Homo sapiens: one gene and its partner. The protein of the gene in region 2 purifies or fractionates together with the protein of the main gene of each other region. This does not show direct contact. Each region holds a gene or a part of one and is shown on either strand. Other genes may lie near its edges.

Region 1 (3,073 bases), on a different chromosome or scaffold from region 2:
TGCTGACCTGAGGCCATGCAGCCAGACTGAGGAAGAACAGGCCTGCCTCTTCCCTCACCCTGCTCCCACCCAGTCAGGCTGAGGAGATCAGGCCAGACAACTTGTTTGGGTTTAGAGACAAGGGGGCTTATTATGCTGGCGGCACCAAGGCACTAATGGGGGGGGGTATACAAGGGTGGGGGTGGCCCCAAGGCCTAATCCCTGTAATCAGTACTGTGGGCAGAGATGATGATGGGCCTGGCTTCTGCAGGCGCTGAGGTCACCTGGACTGGCCTCCCCCAGCCAAGCAACAGCCCCTGGCCCTCCCCAGGCCCCAGCACTGCTCCCTGCAGCTTGGGTCTGTCTGCCCTCATCCCCCCAGGTCCTCCTCTCCTCAGGAGGCAGCCCCTCCCCAGCACCAGCTTCCTCCTCTCCCCCGCCACCCCCCGCCCGCCCCCGCCATCTCTCTCCTGTACTAACCCTGAGGGTCCCCTCTGAGTGGGGGAAAGAAGAGTCCAGACTTTGAAGCGGAGGCATTACTTTATTCAGGCAGGGACTAGCCAGGCAGGGCCACAGCGTGGCAGGGATGGGGGGAGTCAGCACATGGGAGTGCCGTCACCTCCATTAGCCACAGGCCAGACGGCCCAGGAGGGCGTGCTACTGCAGTGAGATGGTGCACTACTGCAGTGAGGTGGCGCAGGGCTGGTGAGCTTGGGCACAAAAGCCAGCATGTCACCCTCCCTTTGGAGAAGCCTCTGGGCCACAGGCCTTTTCCAGCTGACGGGATGCGGAGGGAAGGGGACCTAGTACTATCGGGATTCAGCTGACTTAGCCTATGAGATGGAGCAGGCAAGAGATTCCCTTTGCAGGGTGGGAGGTTATATTCCTACAGCCTCCATTCTTGGAGTAGGCTCCTTTGCCACACCCCTTTTCACCTTAGCGGGCCAGGCCTCTCAGCCAGAAACCATATGTCAAGAGATCGTAAGTTAAGAGTGCTGCTCCTGAGCAGGGAGCGGGCTTGGAGGCGTCCTTCCCCTCCCCGCACCCCTAAGTCCCCAGTGCCGGGCAGATGGTCTTTTCCTAGTCCTCCCCTGAGGACCAGGACTCTCTATCTCCTTCCCTCTGAGTGAACTTCAGGAACTGACCCTGGCCCAGGTGAACAGGAGCCCCTGCCCAAGAGGTCTTCAGAGCACTCCCCTCCTCCTCCTGAAAGGGGCTCCCTCGGTCTCCCTCAGAGACTAGCGGCATTCCTTGCCCCACTTCCTCAGACTGCTCCAGCCCGTTCATCACTCCCCCATTCACATGCTGTGACTTCCCCTCCAAGTTGGGACCCTGGCCATTAACACCAATGATGTCTGCCCCTGGGCCTGCATCCTCCATCCCACTGGGGATCTCTAGAGGGCCAGGGACTTTGTCCTCCCTCTCCAAGGAAACAGGGTCAGACTCTTCCTCTGAGCCAGAAGGCTCAGCACTGTCCTGGGACTCCGTTTCCAGGGCAGTCTTGGGGGCACCAGCCACTGCACCCCTCAAGCTGTCATCCCAGGGGACACTGACACTCACAGAATCAGACTCCAGGAATTCCCCTCTCTGGGAGCTACTCAGGGCCTGGAGGCTGCCAACAGAAGACCCTGGCCCCCACCGCCCAGCCCCTGGCTCCCTCCCCTCCTCCTGATCCTCCTCTCCCTCCTCCCCACTTTCTTCCTCATCTGCAAACCCATCGGACTCCCCATCTCGATCCCAGGCTGCAGGATCCAGTAGCAGCTGGGGCACCTGGCCCAGAGGTTCTGCCACCTCCCCAGGGACCCCAGGAAGAAAAGGTGCCTCAGTCCCCAGGTCCTCAAATTCTTCTGACAGGTCAGAGTCACGGCCACACTCCTCTTCTCCCTCCTCCCCCTCCTCCTTTTCTGAGGGTGGGGCCTCAAGGCCCTCGGAAGCCAGGACAGCAGGATCCCAGCCCTCCTTTCCAGTCTCCCCTTGAGGGGGTGGCCTCTGCTCTCCAGTGGGGTCCCACCTGGGGGAGGTGGGGGACCTGAGGTAGAAGCCCAGGGGAGTGGAGTCTGGAAGGGTCTCCCCGAGCTCATCCTCCTCGCTCTCTTCTCTGCTCTCCTCCCCTTCCTCCTGGGGGCCCTCGGGGATCTCCCCAGAACCCAACTCCTCCTGCTCGCTCTCTACTTTCCCCAGGGCTTCAGCCCTCCCCTGCACCCCCCAGCTAGCCTCCTGACTCCCTTCAGCCTGAGGCTGAGGCCCAGGGGCATCTTCCAGGATCGGGGTGTACGTTGGGCTGGGGGAGACCAGCACTGGTGGTACATCCTCCTCAGCTTCCTCTGACCCCAGAGGCCAAGGTGAAGGGGCATCACTTCCAGTGTGGCCCAGGGTCTCAGCAGGGAACGCCTCCTCTGCTCCCCTGGGGGCCTCAGCCTCTGACTCCTCCCTACCCTCCCTGGGAGGCTCCCAAGGGTCTCTGCTCTTCCCAGGCAGCTCGGAGAACTCTGTCCCCAGACCACCTGCCTCCTCTAGGTCCTTTCTAGGCCCTTCCAAGCCCTGAACCCTCTTTGCCTCCAAACTCTCCTCTTCCAGGGGTGGTTCCATCACCTCTTCCCTGGTCAGATGGCCTGGGTCCCCCAGCCCTCCCACCCCCTGCCCCGGGCCTGGCTCAGCTCCCGCAGCAGACTCACCCATGGCAGGCTCTGACCCCAACATGACCTCTGGGGAGGCTTGGTCACCCCCTGGGGCCACATCATCTTCCACCAGGGGCTCTATCGCCTCTGGCAGCCCCTGGGGAGCCTGGAGGCCTGGGGCCCCCACCTGTTGTGATTGCCCTTCAGGGTCCTGGAGGCCCTCAGCCCCTCCCTTCACACTGGCTCCCTCAACCAGGCCTCTCTGCTCTTTGGGCTCAGGGCTCTCTGGGTGCCCCTCGCCTGGGATCCAGACCTCCTCTGTGGCATTCAGCTCTCCCTGCTCTACCACCTCCTCCTTCCCAGTGAAGCCATCCTGCTCCCTCAGATTCAGCTCTGCCTCATCCTCATTTTCCACTCCAGCCATCCCAGGAGGGCTTTCCTGAGCCAGTTCTTGGTCCTTCTCCACCGTATCTTCC
Region 2 (3,847 bases):
AAGTTATTTTAGAGACAGGGTCTCACTCTGTCTTTGAGGCCAGAGTGCAGTGGTGCGATCGTGACTCACTGTAGCCTCCAACTCCTGGGCTCAAGTGGTCCTCCTGTCTCAGCCTCCTGAGCAGCTAGGCCTACAGGGGTGCACCACCACAACCAGCTAATTTTTTTGGAGGGATGGGGGTCTCCCTGTGTTGCCCAGGCTGATCTCAAACTCCTGGCCTCAAGTAATCCTCCCACCTTGGCCTCTCAAGTAGCTGGGATTATAGACACCAATAACATTATTCTAGGGACATCTGAAAAAATGTGTGAAAACTGCATTCTCTCTGTCAAGTAGCCTAAATCTAGTTCACTGTTTGAAAATATTACACTAAAAGGTGGGGTTCTTTGGGGAGTCTGATAACTCCCTATTGTAAGATTTTGTGTGTTGGATTGTCCTTTTTTTTTTTTTTAGGGGATGAGGAGACCACACTTTCATAGGATTCTTCAAGAATTTTGTGATTTTAAAAAACTAATAACCACTTTCCTAAGGCATGACAGATGCTCCTGAAGTCCTGGCAGGTTTCTATAATCGGGTTTAAACTCTCCTGGTGTGACACTGTCCTCCTGAGATAGAGGGATCTTTCCATGGGGGATTTACTGTGACTTAAGTAAGCTTACCCAGCGGGAAAAGCCTTTGCCACACTTGGAGCATTTGTAAACAGTCGGGATGAAATTTGCATCGTGGTATTTCCTGAAGTGAGCGTTTAGAAGTTGCTTCTGTCGGAAACATTTATTGCAAGAAAGGCAGGTGAATGGTTTCTCTCCAGTGTGGGTACGAATGTGAGCGGTCATATGACGTTCCTAAGAGGGAAGGGGAAGAAAGCAGCTTGTCTAGTTCAAAGGGTTTTCTCGATATTAGACACTGTTTATCATACAATACCTTTTATTTCCCTCCCCAAAGATGAGTCCACTATTAAGCAGAATTACTGCAAACACATTCTGAACAAGGCAGCATTCACTCTCAGTAAGTGGCCGCCTAGGAAACAAAACTCGTATGCAGCAGCAAGTGACAAAGGTCTTGCAGTGGATTCCTTGCTGGCTCTCCTGTCCTGTTGGGATGTGGGAGTACACACCGCAGGGCGTGAAAGGATGGTCCTTTGTCCTCTCATTACTGGGAGTCCTCCTTCTATACAACTATTTACAATTACCTGAATTTACAAAGGGCAAATAGAACCTGCAAACTTAAAAATCAAATGTCAGAGTTTAAATTCAGCAGACCTTTGGGGTTGCAAGTACCTTAAGTATCAACATTTTTCCATTTACTTCCCAATAGTATCGTAACAGATCTTAATACCGATTTTTTTTTTTTTTTTTTTGAGACAGGGTCTCGCTCTGTCACAATCATAGCTCACTGCAATCTCAAACTCCTGGGCCCAAGTGATCCTCCTGCCTCAGCCTCCTGAGTAGCTGGGACTGTGGACGCATGCCACTATGCTCGGCTCAGTTTGTATTTTTTGTAGAGACAGGGTCTCACTATGTTGCCCAGGCTGGTCTCAAACTCCTAGCCTCAAGCAATTCTCCTGCCTTAGCCTCCCAAAGTGCTGGGATTATAGGTGTGAGCCACTGTACCTGGCCTAAATAGAGATTTTATCTTAGACAGGAGAAAATAATTTGGGAAATCAGGAAAAAAATATGTATGAAGTCAAGCAAAAGTACACATTTTGTTTTATTTAAAATGTGATGATTATTTGGATTAAATATATATTCGGCCATTTCTGCATTACTGTCAGTGGCCTAACTGATGCTCTTTCTTCTAATCTTTCTCTCACCCAATTCACTAAACACCCTCTTCCATGCACAGCTTTCACCTCATCACCCTCCTTTGGGACAGCATCTCTGGCGCTCCCTGCTGGGAGCCTGACTCTCCAGGACCGCGGCAGCCAGGAGCACCCAGCAGTGCTCCAAGCCTCTGCCCACGGCCATGACCTGCCTGGCTGCTCTCTACTCCCACATACCTGCTGTATGCCTGCTCCAGGGCCCCTCATCCTTTCCAAGTCCTATCCATCTTTCAGGAAGCCCTCCTAGTTCATTTGAATAAGTATGAGCCTGAGGCCTCAGAATATTCTTTGTTCAAAATCTACCAGAAAAACTCCTTTTCCCTTATTCAAAGCATTTACAGTTTACAGCCCACACTTCAAAACACACAGTAAGCACTGATTTTCACCTTTGGTAACCAATAGCATGCAATACTTTGAAGCAGTGTTTTGGTTTTCAAACTTCTACTCTGAGGGCCTTTTATACTTTAAAAAATTACTGTGGCCTCTGAAGAGCTTTTATGTATACAGGTGGCATGTATTAGTATTTACTTTCTTAGAAAGCAAACCTGGGGAATTCTTAAGTGTTTTTTAAAATAAAACAATTTATTAACTCATTTAAAAATAAAAACAAACCAACTACATATTATTTCTGTAAAATTATCTATTTTTCAAAACAAAAATAACCTAATGTCTGTCTTAATAGATAAGGTTTCCAGTTAAAATACAGGCTGCAACTACTTGTATATAAAACTATTTGTTGTTGTCTGAAGTTCAAATGTCACTAAGTGTGCTGTATTTTTATTTGCTAAGTCTGACAGCTCTATTAAAAGCATTCGGGGCCAGGCGCGGTGGCTCACGCCTATAATCCCAGCACTTTGGGAGGCCGAGGCGGGCAGATCACGAGGTCAGGAGATCGAGACCATCCTGGCTAACATGGTGAAACCCCATCTCTACTAAAAATACAAAAAATAAGCCAGGCGTGGTGGGGGCCGCCTGTAGTCCCAGCTACTCAGGAGGCTGAGGCAGGAGAATGGCGTGAACCCAGGAGGTGGAGTTTGCAGTGATAGCGCCACTGCACTCTAGCCTGGGCAACAGAGTGAGACTCCGTCTAAAAAATAAAAAAATAAAAAAAGAATTCAGATGGATTCCTATCTCTGCTCTTCCCTCAGTCCACTGGAGTATGTTAAGTGATAAAGAAAATTTGGTCTCACAGACATGTAGTTTGAAAAGAGAGCAACATTTTACTAGCTCTTCCAAATAACTGTGGGCATTCTTCTCTGCTATTACACTAAAATTCAGTTAGTAGTAATTTCTTTTTTTAGGGTCTCACTCAGTTGTCCGTGCTGGAGTGCAGTGGTATGAACACAGCCTACTGCAGCCTCAACCTCCTGGGCTTAAGTGATCCTCCAACCTTAGCCTCCTGAGTAGCTGGGACAGATATGCACCACCACCCACAGCTAATTTTTGTATTTTTTTGTAGAGACAGGGTCTCATTATGTTGCCCAGGTTGGTCTTGAATTCCTGAGCTCAACAGTTCTGTCCATCTCGGCCTCCCAAAGTGTTGGGACTATAGGTGTGAGCCAGTGTGTCTGGCCATGGTAATTTCTTACCATGGGTTGCAATGTGGAATCTGAAACCGTGCCAAAGAACTTGTGCTCCTCTGCGACATTATAACCTCTTGGTCTATCTTTTACTTTGAATGGATCTTTTACCTGTGTGTGAGTCTGTAACATCATGGATTGGTCATTTGGAAAATACTAGTTCACTTGAGTTATGCAGATCTTCTAAATGCTGACATATTTCATCACACAATATAAAAGTTGCTTTAAAAAAATCACTCTAATCCCCCCCCTTTTTTTTTTTTTGAGATGGAGTTTTGCTCTGTTTCCCAGGCTGGAGTGCAGTGGCGCGATCTCGGCTCACTGCAACCTCTGCCTCCCAGGTTCAAGCAATTCTCCTGCCTCAGCCTCCTGAGTAGCTGGGACTACAGGCGTGTGCCACCACGCCCAACTAATTTTTGTATTTTTTAATAGAAACGGGGTTTCACCATAT

Evidence for each region. The genes of interacting proteins can lie anywhere in the genome.
Region 1: the proteins of CTCFL (region 2) and NES purify together in Homo sapiens (affinity purification with mass spectrometry; one large-scale study listed by BioGRID and IntAct). This does not show direct contact.

The regions. Positions count from the first base shown.
Region 1 is NC_000001.11:156,668,263-156,671,335, forward strand, and holds the end of NES (nestin), read right to left. Parts: coding exon 1,060-3,073; 3' UTR 501-1,059; downstream 1-500. UniProt on the Homo sapiens protein: Required for brain and eye development.
Region 2 is NC_000020.11:57,507,950-57,511,796, forward strand, and holds part of CTCFL (transcriptional repressor CTCFL), read right to left. Parts: intron 840-3,847; coding exon 657-839; intron 1-656. UniProt on the Homo sapiens protein: Testis-specific DNA binding protein responsible for insulator function, nuclear architecture and transcriptional control, which probably acts by recruiting epigenetic chromatin modifiers.